Regions from separate parts of the Homo sapiens genome. Here region 2 is linked to region 1. The links come from fine-mapping of genetic effects on gene expression. A gene starts in region 1. The other region holds a variant in brackets. All regions are shown on one strand. Distances are from middle to middle.

Region 1 (10,472 bases):
CTCCCACACATGTGCATAAACGCACACTCCCTTGAGCTGGTTGTCGGCCCAGCCAGGCCCCACTCACAGCAGGTGCAGAGACGGAATTCTCAGGAAGCTGCCGGCCTTCAGCTGGGTGACTCCCGTCCTGACGAGTGAGCTGGGGATGTGGGCAGTGGTAGGTGAGAGGGACACCACAGCAATACTCCAGTTGCAAACCAGAACCTTCTGCCATCCGGGAGACCCCAGCGTGCCACCCTGACCCTGGATGTGTCTCCCCTGCATGCCAGAGGAGGCAGGCATTTGCCCTCCTGGCTTGACAAGGACCCTGACAGCACTCAACCCTCCTCCTGGGCCCCAAATGCTGTCCCTGCCCTCTGGGGTTTCCTTCTGCTCCTTCCCAGATGCCAGCACCCCTCTTCAAGGCATCCCGACAGGCTTTGCTGCCCATCTCCTGAGATCCTGATGGGCCCCTGTTTCCCTGGAGACCCGGCACCACATCCCAACCTCTGGGGTCCCAGGACTTCCGTCCCCACCTTCGGGCATGCAGAAGGCTGGACACTCACAGTGACAGCAGGGTCGGAGAGAAGCTGACGGGCAGGTCCGGGGAGCCCTCACACAGGGCGCTGTCTTTAGAGCAGGAGCAGCGCAGGGGACACTTTCCCTTTGGGGGTCTCCAGGCCACCACCACCCCCGCCCCAGCCAGCAGCAGCAGCAGAATGCCTGCCCCTCCCATGCCCCCACCCCCACTCTGAGGCACCCGCTTCTCCCGGCCCACCCAGCTCAGCCCAGGCCACTACGTCTCCTCCTCCACCAGGCCGCCCTCCATCCGCCTGCTGGCACGCTCGGCCCTGGCTTCTCTCTCCTCTTCTCCGTCTTTCTTTCAGTCGGCCTTCCTCCCTGTTCGTATGTCTTTGGTGTCTAATTTTCTGTTTCTCTTTCTCCCTGTCTTTCTGTCTCTGTATTTTTGACTCTGTGTGTTAGTCTGTTTCTATTTCTGTCTTTGTCTCTCTTTCTGCCTGTTTCTTTTTTTCTGTGTTGCTGTCAGTCTTTCAGGCTTTAGGTAGCTGTCTATCTGTTGGTCTCTATGTGTGTGAGTGTATGTGAGTGTGTGTGTGTCCTGCTGCCTGGTGTCTTGATTTCTTGTCTCCTGCCCCCCCCACCCCCCCTTCCAGCTCCCTGCCTGTAGTTTCTTTGCCTCCTCCCACCTCCCTTCTCCCCGAAGGTTTGGGAAAGGGGTTCGCTGGACACCCGGCACACCCGGCAGAGTAGGATGGGAAGGAGGAGGGGGTCAGAGGCCATGAGAAGGTCGGCCTTGGGGGAAGGGACTGGACAGCCCCACAGGAGGGGGAGGGGCCACCAAGGGCTGGAGCCGCCCCACCACTCCCGCCAGCCCCCTCCCCAGATTCCCCACTCAACCCTATTGGGGGAGCAGGAGGACGATGTCACCAGGGTGGGGACCAGATGGCTCTGCATTCTGGAGCAGGGTGGGAGGAGAGGCCCTGGGGGGGCTGGGGACATCCCGTCCTGGCCACTCTCTGCCAGCCCCCTCCCCTGGCTACAGGAGGGTGTGTTGGGCGCTGTCAGTGGGGCCAGATCACGTCCAGCTGCTCCCTCTGGTGGTCATACTCGGCAGGACCTCTGCCCGGCCCCAAGCCCTTAGCCTCCCTCCCCTACCCTGAAATTAACCCTCTAGTGGCCAACACCCACTGGGGGACAGCACCAACCCGAGGACATGATGATGATGAAGATGATGATGATGGTGAAGATGATGATGATGATGCCACCCCTTCTTCAGCGTCTACTCTGAGCCTGGCCTTGTCCTAAAAGCTCATCTATTAACTCATTCTGATCTTGCCAAAGCCCTCTGAAGTTAGTGCTGTCATCATCACCACTTTACAGCTGGAGGAAGTGGAGACAGAGGTCAGGGAACCTGAACTCTAGGTTACCCAGCTGAGGGCACAGCCGGGATTCAAACCCAGGCATCCGGCTCCAGGTTATTTTGCATTCTTTCTTTGGAGATCAGAGTTCATGGATAGATGGATAATTGGTTGTTTTAATCTGGACTAAATTTTAGTCATTTGGATAGATTCTGTCCACTAAATAAGAAACATAAGTAAATGACACTTGTTAGCTAAGATGAAATAGTAGTAATGTTTATACTCACTCAGCCTTCACAGCCACCCTGTGAGATGGGCAGTACTGCTATCCCTGCTTTACAGATGGGGAAACTGAGGCACAGGGAAGTTATGTGATTAGTTTCCTGGCTCTAGTCAGCTCTAAACCTAACCCCTAGGCTGTACCACCTCATCGCCTGGGGACGAGACTCATCCTGTGATTGAGGAATGCATGCAGCCTCTCTTGACACTGACGCCCACGCCCAGAAGCCTCGTTGGAGGATAAGGGGGCTTAACAGCTTGGAGGTCATGCAGATCTGGGTTCCAGGCCCAGTCCTGTGTGGCCTCAGTTTTCCCATCTGTCAAACGGGGACAATCGTGGCACCCGCTTCCCAGTTGTGGAGAGGACTCAGGTGATGGAGGCAACTCATCCTTTTGGGGTTCAGCACAAGGTGGGCATCCCACAGTGGTCGGCAAGCTTGGGGGTGGGCTCCGGATCCAGCTCCTAGAGGAGCAGACCCCAGCAGCTTGTGGTTTGAGCCATGCCCGTCAGCTCTCAGTTTCCTTCACTGACTATTGGGTATGATAAACAGGGTCCCTGAAAGTGAAGTTGGAGAGCTGAGTGCCAGGGGCACAGAGGGATCTGAACCCACTCTCATAGGGTGCCCAGCCCAGCAGTCCAGTTCACAAGGAGGAGGATGACAAGGACAATAATAATAGGCCAGGCACGGTGGCTCATTTCTGTAATCCCACATTTTGGCAGGCTGAAGTGGGAGGATCGCTTGGGGCCAGGAGTTCAAGACAAGCCTGGGCAACATAGAGAAACCCCGACTGTACAAAAAATTAAAAAATTAGCCAGGCATGGTGTCGCACGCCCATAGTCCCAGCTACTCAGGAAGCTGAGGTGGGAGAATCACTTGAGCCCATGAGGTTGAGGCTACAGTGAGCTATGATTGTGCCATTGCACTTCAGCCTGGGTGACAGAGCAAGACCCGGTCTCAAACAAACAAACAAAAAATGAAGTTAATCATAAGACAATGTCAAGTTCAGAGACCTCTGAGCCCTGTCCAGGATTATACACGTGATCTTAGTGATTTTTCCATTTTGGAGCATGTGAAAATGAGGCACAGAGCTGCTCAAGTTCACACAACCAGGAGTGCAGTGCCTGGGCCATTCCAGGTTTCCCTGTCACCAGGACCTGTAAACCTGGCCTGCCCATGGGGACGCCAGGTGTGTTGTCCCCGACAAGAGCTCAGGGGAAGGAAAGTGTGGGGTTAAATACATATCTGTGGTTTTGGAATGTGTGAACATGCAAGTGTGTCAGCCTGCGCATCTGTCACCGTGGCCAACCATGTGCCTGTTTGCTCAAGCATAGGGTGTGAACCAGTGTGTGTGTTTCTGCTTTTGTGGGTATGTGTGAGAGCGGCGGGTTGTCCTTGATGGTGTTTCTGCTTGTGTATCTGTGCCCATGGAAATCTGTCTGTGTGTACACAAGCTTGTTGGCCTTCCTATCTTTGGGACCATGTAGGAGTGCTGGCTGCATGTCTGTACCTTTGGGGTTTTTTTGTTTTGTTTTTGTTTTTGAGACAGAGTCTCGCTCTGTTGCCCAGGCTAGAGTGCAGTGGCATGATCTCAGCTCACTGCAAGCTCTGCCTCCCGGGCTCAAGTGACTCTCCTGCCTCAGCCTCCGGAGTAGCCGTGATTACAGGCGCACGCCACCACACCCAGCTAATTTTTGTATATTTTTTTAGTAGAGACGAGCTCTCGTCGGGTTGGCCAGGCTGGTGTTGAACTCCTGGCCTCAAGTGATCCTCCCGCCTTGGCCTCCCAAAGTGCTGGGAGTACAGGTGTGAGCCACCGTACCTGGCCATGTTTGGCCATGCATCTTAGAATGCATTTATGTGCGGTGTGCACATACTTGTGTGTTTCTGTATGGCCATTTGTGGGTGGGTCTTCACATAAACATGCATTTTTGTGGCCAGTTTGTGAGTGTAGATGGTGATGTGGCTATGTCTTTGACTGTATCTCTGTGTGGCCATCCATCTACATGAGCGTGCGTGGGTCTGTGTAGACATAAATGTGCTTGTTCTGGTATTTTGTGACTGGCATAAAAGGTGTTGGCTGTGTGTCCGGGTCTTTGGGTTTCTCTATCAGTGTGTCATTCTGTGTGTGTCTGCTTCTATGGATGTACATACATACATGGTTTTGTCTGGTTTTGTACCTGTATATCTGGGTCTTTGGGATTGTGTGTGGGTGTGTGTGTGTGGTGCATTTCTGGGGATCTCACCACAGCAGATAGCGCACATGCGCGCGCACACACACACACACACACACACCTCCCTCCCGTCCTCTAAAACAGCCCTGTTAAGGACCTCACGGAGCACTGGGATCGGGGGTCAGTGGGCTCCTGGGCAGTCAGGCTGGGTGACCTTCGGCCCTGGCTGGACCCAGTTCCCAGGGGGCAGCCGCCTCAGCCCAAAAGCTCTTGGAGGCGTGTGTGTTTGTGTGTGTGTGTGTTCACAACCCTGTCCTCCACAATCCTCCTAGCCTCTCCAGCCTGCCTGCTGGCTGCCTGCTGCTGCTCTCTCTGAACTGAGAGAGTTAACCAAGCGGGCCAGGGCAGTCTGGGCTGGGGGCCGCCCCCTGGCCCCCCTCCAGCCCCAGCTCCAGTTTCAGCTGCTGGTTGGGGAGGGCATGGGTGGGGTGGGGCTGGGAGGGGAGGCTGCTGGGGGCGGCGCGTCCAGCTCTGGGCCAGGGGGTCCAAAGTGCTCAGCCCCCGGGGCACAGCAGGACGTTTGGGGGCCTTCTTTCAGCAGGGGACAGCCCGATTGGGGTGAGCGTCCCCCACTCCTTCCCTCCAGGCCTCACCCCTGGTCTGGCTGGGCCGCCTATTTTGGGAGCAGGAGTGGCCAGCCCGAGGCTTCCCAGGCAGGCCAACCCAAGAGGGAGGGAGTGTGGTTGAGGCAGTGGGTTCTGCAGGGTGGGATGTGGGTGACTCCTCCCTGCCCTGCTGGTGCGTGTGCACCCTGGCAGGGTGTGGAGTTGGGACACACACGTGTGTAGGGCTGGTTGCGTCACTGCGTGGGGGCACCGGAGGCCCAGAGGAGGAGTATTGGATGCCTGACGGTGTTTACACCCCACGTCCTGCTCCAACCAGCAGTTTGGGGAGAGGTTGTTGTTCATGTCCATTCCGGCCCCACTGTGTGTGTGTGTGTGTGTGTGTGTGTGTGTGTGTGTGTGTATCCCTGCCCCAGCATGTGTTTTCTATCTCTAAGGCCCACTGGGCTGGGCCTCATGTCACTTGCCTGACATCCGATTGTGAAAGATGTCACCCAGAGGCGGGCAGAGGGGCTGTCTTTTCCTTTTCTCGTTGCTGCCCAGGGAGGAGACGGGGTGACCTTTCCCACAGGGGCAGCCTGTGGCGATGTGGCAGCTGGGCCTCACCCCGGCAGGGCTGTGCGTGACCCCCTGAGTGGGGGAAGGCAGGCTGTTGCCATGGTGGCCTGAGCGAGCAGAATTCCTCCAGGGTGAAGTGGGAGATATTTATACCCGGGGTCAGGCCGCGAGCGGGCGGGCGGAGAGGGCAGGGAGCTGGGATTTCGCGGGGCACAGTGAGGCCGGGCATGTAGGCAGGTGGGACTTGGGCGTGCCCTGCTGTCTCCTGCTCTGTGTTTGTGTGAGGCAGCGCCTCCTCTGCCCTGCCAGGGTAGGTCTGGGAATCGGGGGCCTGCTGCGGGAGGTGGAGGCCCAAGGGAGGCCCCCCGGGGACTGTGTGTCTCACCCCCGTCCCTGCTACGTTGTGTTGTTGTGTGATCCCATCGTGGAGGTTGTTTTGGTGACACTGTGTCCCCACGAAGCTGGGGATACCCGTTTCTCTAGCTTGGAGCCACCAAGATAGAGGACAAACACTTCTGTGATTCAGTCCCCAGACTGTCTCTGACTTAATCCCTTGGGTTCAAGCCCTATGTGGGAGAGCAAGGGCACACACTGCCTAATCCGTGGTGTCCCCCCCAGGACAATGGCGTCTCTTGGCCACATCTTGGTTTTCTGTGTGGGTCTCCTCACCATGGCCAAGGCAGGTGAGTGCAGGGGAGGCTGCCCGCTACCCACCTCAGCCCCAGGGGTGGCGGTGGGGACCGAAGAACCAAGTTGGAGACCCCAACCTAGACTAAGTCGGCTGGGGTACCAAGAAGTTTGGGGGTCTCCACGTGGGGTCCAGTCACAGGCTGGTATTTGGGGGAGGGGAGAGGAAGCCCCAGATCAGGCAAAGATGGGGTGGGATGGGGCTGAATCCCCGATGGGATAACTGGGTCACAGACAGCCTGCCGTGAGTCAGGGAGCTGGGGCAGTTAGGTGCCACCTGCCCCATCTGGGACAGTGCAGAGGGGGCAGCTGGGACCCAGAGAGTGTGGGCAGCCTGCCCAGACACCCTCAGACTCTAAGCCCAGCAAGGCAGAGCCTCCAGTGGTCTCCTCATGCCCCTCCCTGCCAGGACCCCAGGAAGCATTCAACCCCTGATTTCTCTCTCTTTCCAGAAAGTCCAAAGGAACACGACCCGTTCACTTACGGTGAGCGGGGGGTCTAATTTTGAGTCCTGGGGGAGAGCCTGGCTTTGCTGGTCCTTTGATTCCCCCTCGCCCTCCCCCAGAGTCCCAGTATTGATATCTCTGTCATTCTCCTTCCCTCTATTTTGTCCTTCCTCTCTGATTCCACCTGTCTGCATCTTTTCCTGTCTGTGTCTATCTGTGTCACTGTCTATGTGATACCTCTCTGGTTCTCTTTCTCTTGCCTGCGTCTGTCTCAGCATCTCGTGGCCCATCCTCTGCTTCTTCCCGTCTTCTCTCCCCCCTGTCCTCCTCCTCCCTGTCCCCTCCCTCCCTTTCCTATACACCCCTTTCCTCTCCCTGGTACCCCACTTTCCTCCTCCCATATCTGCTCCCCCTTAATTATCTTACTTCCCCCCTTCTGCCTGCTGGTCCTTTCTCCCTGTTCCCTCCTTCCCAATTTACCCCTCTCCTATTCTCCCTCCTGTCTTCCCTGCCCTCACCTTCCCTGCTCTGCTGCTCACAGACTACCAGTCCCTGCAGATCGGAGGCCTCGTCATCGCCGGGATCCTCTTCATCCTGGGCATCCTCATCGTGCTGAGTGAGTGCCCCTAGCTCCCGCCCTCTACCCCGCCTCTCCCTGGCCCCACCTCTCTCTGGCCCCGCCTCTCCCTGGCCCCGCCTCTCCCTAGCCCCCCTCTCCCTGGCCCCGCTTCTCCCTGGTCCCGCCCCTCCCTGGCCCCGCCCCGCCCCAACCCCTCCCAGGCCTTGCCCCGCCTACCCTGCCTTGGTTCCCCGGCCCCCGGTCTCGCCTCTAGCCCCGCCCCGTCCCCCAAGCCCCGCCCCTCGCGAGGGCGAGCTGGAGCTACAGCGCCGCTTGGCGCCCGCCGGGAGGGAGCCTCAGCTTCTCCTACCTCTCCACGCCCACAGGCAGAAGATGCCGGTGCAAGTTCAACCAGCAGCAGAGGTAAGACGCCCCTCCCCGCCCTCCTTCGCCCGCTCCTGCTCTGGAGGGCGCCGCGGGTGAGGCGGGGAGTACCCCTGACCCGCAGCCCGATCCCCGTCAGCGACTATGTATTAAGCACCTACTATGTGCCATGGCCCAAGCCTGGCCCTGGGACCAAGCGAGGAAAAAACCTCCCGCCCTTCCTGGCCGAGCTCCCAGCCTAGTGGAGGCGGTGGCCGTGGGTTCCAACAGCCCCACAGATAGAAAAATCACAAAGCGTGATAACACAAAGTGCAGGAAAGAAGAAACGGCGGTGAAATGAGATCATCTCACACGCGGCCCAGTTTAGCTTAGAGTCTTGTTCCTAGCTCTTTGATTCCTCTTCGAATAAAATGTTAAAGCATGGACAATGTATGAATATGTTAGAACAATTATAGATATTATCATAAGTAGTAGCTAATATTTACTGGGTGTGTACCACGTGTTAGATACGGTTTCACTTCCTCTGGGAGGGAGGTGCTGTTATTAACCCCATTTGACAGATGAGGAAACTAAGGCACAGGGAGGTAAAGTCACTTTGTTCAAGATCACTCAAGTGGAAGATGGGGGGTTCTGGGTTTCCAACCCAGGCCATCTCATGGCAGTCTGCCAAGTCCCCATGACTATCCCTCCCCCACCAACTTCACATCCCTGCCCCCAAATCCGCGGAGGTACTCACTGTTAACCAGCTTAGAAGCCCCCTGCCAGCACATAAGCTGCTCCTGGGTGCTCCTCATTTCTGGCGGACCCCGAGCCTGCTCTTCGTCCATATCTGGGCCTAGTTACACCAATCTGGGAAAGGAGGCTTGTACTGGGGGGTTCCTAGAAGGGCAGCCTCTCCCCCTTTCCATCCCGAAATCCCTCTGCCTCTGTCTTCCCAGGACTGGGGAACCCGATGAAGAGGAGGGAACTTTCCGCAGCTCCATCCGCCGTGAGTCTGGGGAGACTGCGGGTATTCTGGGGAGAGGGCTGGTTCCAAGGACCGCTTTTCCCGGCCCTCCCTGGCTGCGTAGAGGGAAGGGCTGGATCTGAAAGCGGAGGGCGGGGAGTTGCCCCGCCGCGGGCCCCACCTGCCCAGGAGCTGGGGATGCCTCTCCAGAATGACCCCCGATCTCCGTGTTCCCCCCAGGTCTGTCCACCCGCAGGCGGTAGAAACACCTGGAGCGATGGAATCCGGCCAGGTGCTGCAGCTCTGACACGGCGGTGGGAGGGAAGGAGGGAGGAAGGAAAGGCGGGAGAGGGAGGGGGCCAAGTGCCAGAGTTGAAGGGCGGCGAGGGGTGGGGCTGGACGTCCCCCCTCGCCTCTCACCCTTTTCACCCTCACAGGACTCCCCTGGCACCTGACATCTCCCACGCTCCACCTGCGCGCCCACCGCCCCCTCCGCCGCCCCTTCCCCAGCCCTGCCCCCGCAGACTCCCCCTGCCGCCAAGACTTCCAATAAAACGTGCGTTCCTCTCGACAGCACTTTGTCGGTCTCGGTCCCTCAGCGCGAAACGCCAGCGCCACTGGGCCCCAGCAGGGGGCGCCCCACCCTAGAGGAAGGGGCGGGGACGACGGTGGTGGGCGGGGGCGGGGGCGGGGGTGGCCTGCACGGGGGCGGGCTCCCCGGGCCCCCATTGGCTGCAGGCCCCCCCACGCCAGGGCTCCCCCCAGCTCCCCCCCACATCGGTCCGTCCTGCTTCCAGCTGCTGCAGCGCGCCTTCGCCGCCAAAGCATCCAGCAGCCCCCTGCTCCGGCCCAGCATGGCGACCCCGACCCAGACCCCCACAAAGGGTGAGCGTCGTTTGGGGAGGGGGTTGCAGGGGGGCTCCGGGATCTGAGAGCCTAGGAGAGAGGGTGTCGGGAGATTCAAGCAATGGTAAGGCAAGGGAGTTGGGGGAGGGAGGTCCGCTCCTCCTGTGGGCGGAAGCCCCTGTAATGCGCCCCCCCGATCGCCCCTCCGGGTCTCTGGGACACCCCCTCCCCGGCAGGCGTCCTGTGCCAGACCTGCGGTTGGAGAGTGGCAGTCCCGGGAGAAGGGATGCTCGGACAGGTCGCTATGGCAACCGGGTGGCTGGTCCCGCACCGTGGTGGTAGCAGACGGGGAAGAGATGAGCTTGCAGGGTGGGAGCGGGTGGGTCTGCGACCAGAGACGTTCTGGAAGATTTCAGGGTCCCTGGGGTGGGCAAGGGAAGGGGAGGAGGTTCATGTCCCTCTTCTTTCCAGTGCTGTCTCCTAGGGTGTCTGTTTCCTGAAACCCTTGACAGCCAGGTTCAGAGGAAAGGAGTGAGAGCTGAAGGAAGAGACAGAGAGAAGGGATATAGCAAGAGACAGACAGGGAGAACCTGGAAGAGACAGAGACCAAGAGAGGCAGGAGATCCAGAGTCACAGATACAAAGACCCAGGAAGACAAATAGATGGACTCAGAGAGATTCCCAGTGGAGGGGAGAGGCTGAGAGCAGTAGACAGAGATGCAGAGAGAGAGAGAAAAAAAAATGAGAGCCTGGGAGATAGTGGGATTGAGACCGCTATGGAGAGAGAAGCAGAGAGACGGAGGGAGAGAGACGGACCCATGGGGAGAGAGGGGAGTAGAAAGAGAAGAAGGGAGCCATGTGGGGTGGGGCCCAAACCACTGCAGTGAGACCCTATGTGTGGGAATGGGGCGATGGGACCCTCCTTCCAGCCCACAGCAGGGGTGTTTTCCAATCCCAGAGGTGCTGTTGGGTATACACCTAGCTGCCCCTACTGCCCCCATCCAGCCACACACTGATTTCCATTCCACACCAATTAACCCAGTTATGCACCCACTTAAACACCCACTTCTACCGTCGCCCCCTAATAGCCCCCACTGCTAATCCTGCTTCTGC
Region 2 (10,472 bases), 40 kb after region 1:
GCCAATACTATGTTTCCCAGATGCGCTCAAAGATGTGGTTTTGGGTGTGGATTCAGCTCTGCGAATTAGAGGCCCTCGCAGAAGACTTGGAAGACCAAAAGAGACCATCTTTCTGTGCCATTTGCTGTTTGCTGTGAGCTCATAGGATGGTGAAAGTGTTGAGTTTTTTTGGCTGTACCATTCCAGTGTCCAGTCACTAGCCTCGTAGGTACTAAAAGGCAGTTATGCTCATAAAAGAATATCTAAATTGGCCAGGCGTGGTGGCTTATGCTTGTATTCTCAGTACTTTGGCAGGCCAAGGCAGGCGGATCACCTGAGGTCAGGAGTTTGAGACCAGCCAGGCCAACATGGCAAAACTCTATCTCTGCTAAAATACAAAAATTAGCCAGGCGTGGTGTAGTCCCAGCTGCTCAGGAGGCTGAGGCAGGAGAATCGCTTGAGCCTGGGAGGCGGAGGTTTCAGTGAGCAGAGATTGCGCCATTGTACTCCAGCCTGGGCAACAGAGAGAGACTCCATTTTGAAAGAAAGAAAGAGAGAGAGAGAAAGAGAGAAAGAAGAAAGGAAGGAAGGAAGGAAGGAACGAAGGAAGGAACGAAGGAAGGAAGGAAGGGAAAGGGAAATCTAAATGGCCAATAAGCACATGAAAAGATGTTCAATATCAACAGTCATCAGTAAAAATAAATGAAAATCACAATGAGATACCACCACACACCCACTAGGATGGCTAAAATTAAAAAGACAGACACTTCCAAGTGGGAAGAGGATGTGGAACAAGTGGAATTTCCATTCGTAGCTGGACCAGAAAGGGATACAATCACTTTAGAAAACTGGCAGTTTCTAGGCTGGCCACGGTGGCTCACACCTGTAATCCCAGCACTTTGGGAGGCTGAAGACCATCTGAGGTCAGGAGTTCGAGACCAGCCTGGCCAACATGGTGAAGCCCCGTCTCTACTAAAAATACAAAAATTAGCTGGATGTGGTGGTGGGTGCTTGTAATCCCAGCTACCCGGGGGGCTGAGGCAGGAAAATCACTTGAACCCAGGAGACAGAGGTTGCAGTGAGCCGAGATCAGACCACTGTACTCCAGCCTAGGCAACAGAACGAGACTCGGTCTCAAAAAAAAAAAAAAGAAAAGAAAAGAAAATTGGCAGTTTCTTAAAAAGGTAAATGTGCACTTAACCTATGACCCAGCTATTCAACTCTTAAGTATTTATCCAAGAGAAGTCAAACCACATGTCCACACAAAGACCCACACACAAATGTTTACAGCAATATCTGTAATAGTAAAAAGACTAGAAACAACCCCAATGTCCATCAGCACAAGTGAGTGGACTACAAACTGTGGAAGGAAGAAAGACTGAGCTACACAACACATGAATGAATCTCAAAAGCATTGTCTTGAGTGAAAGAAACCACACACGAAAGAGCACAGACTGTGTAATTCCATTTATATGAAGTTCTGAAATATGCAAAACTGATTAACAGTGATAAAAATCAGAAGAGTAGTGGCCTCTACTATGTCAGCAGGAGGTGGGGAGAGACTGCAAAGGGGCATGAAAGAACTTTCTGGAAGGATTGAAATGTTCTGTGCCCTGATGACAGTGGTGCAGATTACATGTCCATATATTGATCAGAATGATCAAATTGTACGTTTAAGTTTTGAGGGCTCGGTGCCGTGGCTCATGCCTGTAATCACAACACTTTGAGAGGCCAAGGCAGGTGGATCACTTGAGGTTGGAGTTCGAGACCAGCCTGGCCAACATGGTGAAACCCCGTCTCTACTAAAAATACAAAAATTAGCCAGGCATGGTGGTGCATGCCTGTAATCCCAGCTCCTCAGAAGGCTGAAGCAGGAGAGTCGCCTGAACGTGGGAGGCGGAGGTTGCAGTGAGCCGAGATCGCGCCACTGGACTCCAGCCTGGGTGATGGAGCAAGACCCTGTCTCAAAGGAAAAAAAAAAAAAAGATTTGTACACTTTACTATGTGTAAGTGATATTTGGATGTGTGACCCCTCCAAATCTCATGTTGAAATGTGATCCCCGATGATGGAGGGGGGCCTGGTGGGAGGTGATTGGGTCATGGGGGTTGATCCCTCATGAATGGCTTGGTGTCCTCCCCATGGTCATGCGTGAGTTCTTGCCCTCTTAGCTCACGTGACAGCTGGTTGCTTAAAGAGCCTGGCACCTCCCCCTCTCTCTGTCTTACTCCTGCTCTTGCCATGGGACACGCCTGCTATCCCTTCACTTCCTGCTATGAGTAAAAGATTCCTGAGGTCTCTTCACCAAAAGCCAAGCAGATGCTGGTGCTGTGCTTGTACAGCCTGAAGAACCATGAGCCAAAGAATTCTCTTTTCCTTATAAATTACTGTCTCAAGTATTCTTTTATGGCAATGCAAAATGAACTAACACAGTAAATTATAACTCAATACAAAACAAGAACATTGAAAACAAATAGGCAGTTCTGTCCTGGGTGGTGATGATTTTCTGATCCCTGGATCTCAGACAGAGCAGCCAGATGCTGAAGCTGACGTGTACAATGGGGGCTCCTGATTAGGGTGGAGGGAGAAGCTCCTTGGGCAAGTCAGTCTGCTCATGTTGTGGAATCATTTGCAGTCTTCACTTAGAGCGCACTCCACCAGCCTTTCCAAAGAGCTTGTCAACCTCTAATTCCTTATGCCAAGCCAGACCAATTTTGCTTAAAATTGACAGTCACAAATAATCTCAAAATCTCGTGGCTTACAACAAAGGTTTGTTTCTCGCTCTCACTACATGTCCCTCACGGTTCAGCTAGGAGCTAGGATGGGACCCAAGATGATGGGGAAGCCTGGGCTGGGCGCAGTGGCTCACACCTGTAATCCCAGCACTTTGGGAGGCCGAGGCAGGCAGATCGCTTGATCTCAGGAGTTTGAGACCAACCTGGCCAATATGGTGAAACCTTGTCTCTACAAAAAATACAAAAATTAGGCCAAGTGCAGTGGCTTACACCTGTAATCCCAGCACTTTGGGAGGCCGAGGCAGGCGGATTACCTGAGGTCAGGAGTTTGAGACCAGCCTGGCCAACATGTCAAAACCCCATCTCTACTAAAAATAGAAAGATTAGCCAGGCATGGCGGTGCATGCCTGTAATCCCAGCTACTCAGGAGGCTGAGGCAGGAGAATCACTTGAACCTGAGAGGCGGAGGTTGCAGTGAGCCGAGATCAAGCCACTGCACTCCAGCCTGGGTGACAGAGTGACAGAGTGACACTCCGTCTCAAAAACTAAATAAAAATAAGCTGGGCATGGTGGCTTGCGCCTGTGGTCCCAGCTATTTGAGGGGTGAGGTGGGGGGATCGCTTGAGCCCAAGAGATGGAGGTTGCAGTGAGCTGAGATCACGCCACTGCACTCCAGAGTGAGACCCTGTCTAAAAGAAAAGAAAATAAAAGAAAAGAAATGTTTCTGGTTATCATAGCAGGCAGAAGGCAGAACAAGGAACAAGGTGAGACACACACTGGCTCTTATAGCCTCTGTCAGGAAGGGACACACCTCATTTCTGCTCACATTGTCATTATCGAAAGCAAATCACACGGGCACATTTGAGTTCAACAGCACAGAACATTACAATCTTCTTATAGGAAGGTATATTAATCCGTTTTCATGCTGCTGATAAAGACATATCTGAGATTGGGAAACTTACAAAAGAAAGAACTTTATTGGATTTACAGTTCCACGTGGCTGGGGAGGCCTCAATCATGGCAGAAGGTGAAAGGCACGTCTCACATGGTGGCAGACAAGAGAAGAGAGCTTGTGCAGGGAAACTCCCCTTTTTAAAACCCTCAGACCTCATGAGACTCATTCACCATCACAAGACCAGCAAGAGAAAGACCTGCCCTTATGATTCAACCACCTTCCACTGGGCCCCTCCCACAATATGTGAAAATTCAAGATAAGATTTGGGTGGGGGCACAGCCAAACCACATCAGAAGGGAACTGGGTATTGATGGGCAGTAATATTGTTTACTGCAAAGGACATTTATTATCTCACATAGCAAGAGTTCTAGAGGCAGAAACTGTATTCAGCTTCAGGAGACAGCCAGAAACAACGACTTAAACAGGTTATTTATTCCTCTCTCACATAGCAGAACTCTGAAGTACATAGTGCAAGGCTGGGAAAGAGGATCCCTAATATCATAAGGGACCAGACTTGCTGCTCTGCCACCCTAAGCATGTGGCCTGAAGCCTCAAGATCACAAAATAGCTGCAGAAGCCTCAGCCATCATGCCACATTCCAGGAAAAAAATCAAGAAGGGGAAAAAAAAGTGAGAAAGGAAAGGCACCACTAGGTGATTCAGCTCCTTTTAAAG[G/A]GACTTCCCAAGACTCCCTCCCAAAGATTTCTACTTCCTTCGGATTGCTACCTCTAATTGCAAAGGACACAGAAATGTGGTCTTTTAGCTGAGTCCGTGACACCCCAAATACCATCAAGGAAAATAATTGCCCTCAGGAATTTGTTGATTAGGATGCTGAGAAGGATGGGGAGCTGCCACCAAGTCAGGAGATGGAGCCTCAAGTCATTTTTACTCCAATGTAAAAGGAAAAGATAACTGTTAAGACTGGGGGTTGGCCAGGCACAGTGGCTCACACCTGTAATCTCAACACTTTGGGAGGCCAAGGCAGGTGGATCACCTGAGGTCAGGAGTTCGAAACCAGCCTGGCCAACAGGGTGAAATCCCATCTCTACTAAAAATACAAAAATTAGCCAGGCATGTGACACATGCCTGTAATCCCAGCTACTCGGGAGGCTGAGGCAAGAGAATCACTTGAACCTAGGAGGCGGAGGTTGCAGTGAGCCAAGATTGCACCATTGCACTCCAGCCTGGGTGACAAGAGTGAGACGTCATCTCAAAAAAAAAAAAAAAACTGGTCGTTTTTGAAACTTCCAGAGGACAGCAGCACTGATTCTCAGACTTGATAGAGACTTCCAGACATCACTTCAACAGCGCCTCCAATGCTCTCCAATGCTACCCAATCCCTTTCTGGCAAAAGACATCTTTTTCTGTGGCATCATGGTCTGAAGTGAAGCCTCCTCCTCCTCCACCCTTACATCAGGGGAGATATCTTGCCAGGAGCTAATGGAGTGGATGTTGTAATTCAGCTAGCCTCCTGAGTACAATTCTGTCAAGGTTCTTGTTTTGAAATTGAGGCCAGATCACATTAACTGGAAGGAATCTGCCTTTTCTCATCTGACACTAGATTGTGCTTTTCTTGGAGGTGTTGAGGATGACCTCCAATGATTGCTTCGGTAAAGTCTGTTGGCTTCTCAAGAAGTTATTGAGTCAAGGACTCCAGCTGCTGATGGTGGGAGGTTAAACAGGGTTTGAAACATCGCCTGAGGTGGCTTTGTAATGTATCACCTTGGCCAGGTTAAACTACACTTCCCAGAATCTTTTTCCCTAGATGCCTGTGTTTTCTGGTTAGGGTGAACCACAAGAGACATTCTTGTCAGGGATCTGCTGGGTAGAGGTGAAGCCACGGACATTTCGCAGCTTATACCAGTTGTCACTTATCAGACAGCTCATCTCATTGGCATAAGGCAGCAACCAGGGCTGCAACTGTTTCACCTTCCGCTGGATCCTCCTTCAGCTTCCCCAGTTGTTGGGCCAGACATGTGTGCTCAGCCCCGTGATGAAGGACCATGACTCTAGCAAGACACCCACAGCACCAAGGTCATAGACAACAAGAATTAGCATGGGGCTGGGTGCAGTGGCTCATGCCTGTAATTCCAGCACTCTGGGAGGCCGAGGCGGGTGGATCACTTGAGGTCAGGAGTTCGAGACCAGCCTGGTCAACATGGTGAAACTCCATCTTTACTAAAAATACAAAAATTACCCAGGCGTGATGTTGCATGCCTGCAATCCCAGCTACTCGGGAGGCTGAGGCAAGAGAATCTCTTCAACCTGGGAAGCAGAGGTTGCAGTGAGCAGAGATCACACCACTGCACTCCAGCCTGGTCGACCGAGTGAAACTCTGTCTCAAAAAGAAAAACAAAAAGAAAGAAAGAAAGAAAAAAAAGAAGAGAAAAGAAAAAGAAAAAGAATTAACATAGGATTCAGTCCATCCTTGTGGACTCCAGCTTGTGCTTGTGGGTTCTAACTTGTTCCGTGCTCTCCCCAATCTTACCTCAATCTTCCCTTCCTGACTTCCTGCACCTGTGGGTTTCAAGTTCCAGCATCAAGACAACAGCCCTACAAAGAGAGCTTCACTAGCAACTACAATTGTTGAAGGTCAAATTCGTGTAGCAAACTGTGTGTGTGTACGCCCACATATGTATTAAAGGTTCAGCTTTGCTGATACAGAATTTGGTACTAAGAGTGGTTCCAGAAGGCCAGAATCTTAACAATGAGATCTGGTTTTTCTTTCTCTTTTTTTTTTTTTTTTGAGATGGAGTCTCACTCTGTCACCCAGGCTGGAGTGTGGTGGCGTGATCTTGGTTTACTGCAAGTTCCGCCTCCCGGGTTCACGCCATTCTCCTGCCTCAGCCTCCCCAGCAGCTGGGACTACAGGCGCCTGCCACAACGCCCAGCTAATTTTATTGTACTTTTAGTAGAGACGGGGTTTCACCGTATTAGCCAAGATGGTCTCAATCTCTTGACCTTGTGATCCACCTGCCTCGGCCTTCCAAAGTGCTGGGATTACAGGCGTGAGCCACCGCGCCCGGCCGAGATCTGGTTTTTCTAGAATTGGTTCTCTAATTAAATTGAAAGCCATTAATGACCTTGTTTTCAGTAATGAAGGGTACACTGATAGGTCATAGCATGGAGTGGCAAGGCAGTCACTCAGACCATCACCAGTAGCTTCCTATATTAGGTTTCTATAGAAGGAAAGGCTCTGGGTGACTGAGTATTTGCTTCCACAGAACAGTTTAGTGAAAATAAGAAGTGTAATGGGGTTGGCTCATTGCTGCTGACTGTGCTGGAAAACTTGGAGCTGAGGTGGAATGATGGCACTCAGAACTTTACCTTCCCAGCTCTGGTTCTGTATAAGGGACTTGAAAGCTTCTGTGAGTGGTGGCCCTGAAAGAAACTTGTATTTCCCATAGTCATAGGGCTGAGATTTCTGAAAACCAAAGCTAAAGTCTAATCCAACAAAAGTTGAACTTCTAACCTCACAGGGTCTTTTTTGTTAAAGTTAGGGCTTTGATTGGGGAGGAATGGGATCCTGAAAATTGGGATGGAGACATATGAGCAGATTCCAGTGAAGCTGAGGACTTTAAGACCCCTAAATTCTGCCAAATCTCTTTGCCTGCAGAGGCAGCCCTTTCACTCTTGCCTGCAGAAGTGAGTCTCCTCTTCCCTGAAGAAATTGTAATGGCCTTCCATAAGGCAAGGCATCTATGCTCCTCAGGACCTATTCCTATCACTTCTTACTTCTAAGACCTATGACTAGACTCAAGGCTCAAGAGAATGTGAAAGGTGAGGTATAAAATGTGACCCATGAGGGGGTGCAACACACACCCAAATAATTGTCAATTTATATCAACAGAGAACTGGGGAATATGTGCAGAAATGGATCTTAAGGGTGTGGAATCAAGGTGGAAGACAATATAGTTGGATCAAGTCAAATGTATTTACATTGGCCCACCAAGCAGAGATGTAATGTTTGAGCTTGAGGGGCTAGGAATGGTTCTGACAGTTTGCTTGGTTGGCTGATTGATATATGGACCCGTACCTGGGCCTATAATAGGTTGAAAATGCCAGAATTTCCTTGGGTGTACTAAAGAGCATGAATCAGCATATTTTTTTTTCTGTAAAAAGCCATAGAGTAAATGTTTTAGGTTTTACAGGCCAGTCTCAGTTTTTCACTCTTCAGCTCTCCCATTGTAGCAATAAAGCCATCAAGGACAATTTGTAAGTAACTGAGCATGGCTGTGCTCCAATATAAGTTTATTTATAAACACTGAAATTTGAATTTGTATCATTTTCATGTGTCACAAATATTATTTTTCTTTTGATTTTATTTCAACTAAAAAAATGTAAAAACCAATTCTATTTTGTGGGCCACACGAAAACAGCCCAGGAATTAGATTTGACCCATGGACTGTCATTTGACGATTCCTGCTGTAGTGAAAGGTGGCCAAAGGCTCAGAGAGATTGGAATGCTGGAGTGGCTTTATCATGTAAGATTTGCTCATCTATACACATTGACAGTGCCAAGGGGACACGACTTTCATCCTAGCTATCAGAAATAAATTTGTGAAGGAGAGTCCTAGCATCCTTGAAGAGCTCTGTGGTGGCTCTTCTTTGTAGGTCAGAAACTCTAGTGGAGGTCATTAAGATGGCTGACCAGAAGTGCCCAACACTCAGCTGCGTAGAGTGTCTAAGAGAAAACACTGGAATTCAGCAAAGAAGTGACAAAACCCCAGAATATTGTGATGGCAGCATAGACAGGGAAGCAAAGCACCTGAGCAGTATTGGTGCAGAGCCAAGAGGACTCCCCATTGCAGGTAAAAGGTAAGTGGGGGGTGCCCTGCAGTCCTTGCAGCAATCCTAGCTATAAGAGGGCCTCACGGTCCTCACAGGCCTGAAGCCCAGTCTAGGGAGCTGCCTAGAATCCACATGGCTACACTGCCCCAGAGAAAGGACTCACACTGAGGCCCCACTCCCAAAGACCCAGGCTGCTACCACACAGGGCTATTTTGAGAACAGAGCCCACTGCTAGAGGGCATTCTGCCTTGGATGCCAATAGCTCCTGCATCTCCACATCCCTGGGGTCCTTCTGTTATTCCACCATGTCTACACAAAAGGGTGCAATGCCACAACACCAGTTAGATCCAGAAGTACAGCTATGACCCCAGCATTTGAACTCATACAGTGCCCCACACCCCAGGGAACAGGCAATCTATCACAGCAGGGTGGCAGCCCCCAAAACATGGGGAACCAATGTGCAAATCCCTCAGGGACCAAGGACTTGCCTGCCTGGTGCCCAACAGTGATGGCAATGCTGCCTCACAACTAGCAGAGCCACCATGCCCAGTGCACACTTCCCTAGGGTTCACCCAGCTCCTTCCTCCAGCAAAGCCACACCACTGCCTCCTTAAACACCTGAATATTAGGCCACTGAAGTATTCACAGACACTGCTGACATTAATTACAGCCAAAGAAATCACATGGAGATCATACTACTGTGTTTATCTAGAACCACAGCCAAAGCATCCTACACAACCGACACTATAGGGTACATATACAGGAAAAAGTCTTTACTTATGAAAGTTACTCCATCAAATTGGAAGAGGTAGCTATTATACCAGATGTGTAGGAACACAAGAAACATGAAAAAGCAAGAAAACATGACACCTCTAAAGGAACACAATAATCCTCCAATAATAGACCCCAAAGAAAAGAACATCTGTGCAATTCCCAAAAAAGAATTCAAGTGATCATAAGGAAATTTGATGGGATACAAGAGAATACAAATAGACAATTCAACAAAATCAGGAAAACAGGGCTGGGCGCGGTGGCTCACGCCTGTAATCCCAGCACTTCGGGAGGCCGAGGTGGGTGGATCACCTGAAGTCAGGAATTTGAGAGCATCCTGGCCAACATGGCAAAACCATGTCTCTACTAAAAATACAAAAACTAGCCAGGCATGATGGTGCATGCCTATAGTCCCAGCTACTTGGGAGGCTGAGGCAGAAGAATCGTTTGAACCCTGGAGGCGGAGGTTGCAGTGAGCCAAGGTCGTGCCACCGTACTCCAGCCTGGGCAACAGAGTGAGACAACATCCCCCGCCCAAAAAAATCAGGAAAACAGTTCATGATCAGAATGAAAAAAAATCAGTAAAGAGATGGATATCATAAAAAAAAACACATAAATTTTGGAGCTGAAGACTTAATAAATGATTTTTTTTTTTTTTTTTTTGAAACAGAGTCTTGCTCTTGTCACCCAGGCTGGAGTGCAATGGCATGATCTTGGCTCACTGCAACCTCTGCCTCCCAGGTTCAAGCAATTCTTCTGCCCCAACCTACTGAGTAGCTGGGATTACAGGCCCCTGCCACCATGCCCAGCTAATTTTTGTATTTTTAGTAGAGACGGGGTTTCGCCATGTTGGCCAGGCTGGTCTCGAACTCCTGACCTGGTGATCTGCCCACCTCAGCCTCCCAAAGTGCTAGAATTACAGGCGTGAGCCACCGATCCCGGCCAATAAATGAAATTTAAAATATAATTGAGAGCTTCAACAACAAACTAGGTCAAGCAGAAGAAAGAATTTCTAAACTTGAAGACAGGTCTCTTTTGAAATAACTCAATCAGACAAAAAATAAAATAAAAAAGAATGAAGGAAGCCTACAAGACCTATGGGACATTGTTAAGCAAACAGATATTCCAATTTCCAAAAGGAAAAGAGATGAGAAAAGACACAGAAATCCTATGTAATAAAGTAATAGCTGAGAACTTCCAAAGTCTCGGGAAAGGTATGGACATCCAGATTCAGGATGCTCAAA

Evidence for each region.
Region 2: its variant is fine-mapped to the expression of FXYD1 in whole blood (TOPMed, PIP above 0.99).

What each region holds. Positions count from the first base shown.
Region 1 is chr19:35,133,966-35,144,437 of GRCh38, forward strand. FXYD1 (FXYD domain containing ion transport regulator 1) reads left to right here and starts at 4,859. Exons shown (of 8, transcript NM_021902.4): 1 at 4,859-4,929; 2 at 6,111-6,175; 3 at 6,632-6,664; 4 at 7,167-7,241; 5 at 7,571-7,607; 6 at 8,507-8,556; 7 at 8,755-8,806; 8 at 8,952-9,144. The coding sequence starts at 6,115. The coding sequence ends at 8,777. LGI4 (leucine rich repeat LGI family member 4) reads right to left here and starts at 1,094. Exons shown (of 9, transcript NM_139284.3): 1 at 546-1,094; 2 at 68-139. The coding sequence starts at 715. FXYD7 (FXYD domain containing ion transport regulator 7) reads left to right here and starts at 9,290. Exons shown (of 6, transcript NM_022006.2): 1 at 9,290-9,399. The coding sequence starts at 9,369. RefSeq lists silencers at 7,171-7,300, 7,411-7,630 and enhancers at 7,265-7,827, 8,951-9,511, 9,512-10,073.
Region 2 is chr19:35,173,827-35,184,298 of GRCh38, forward strand. No RefSeq gene overlaps it. Among named protein-coding and RNA genes, the nearest start is that of FXYD5, 24 kb to the left of the region's middle. RefSeq lists a silencer at 2,025-2,181. The variant G/A (reference allele first, on the strand shown) is at 4,342.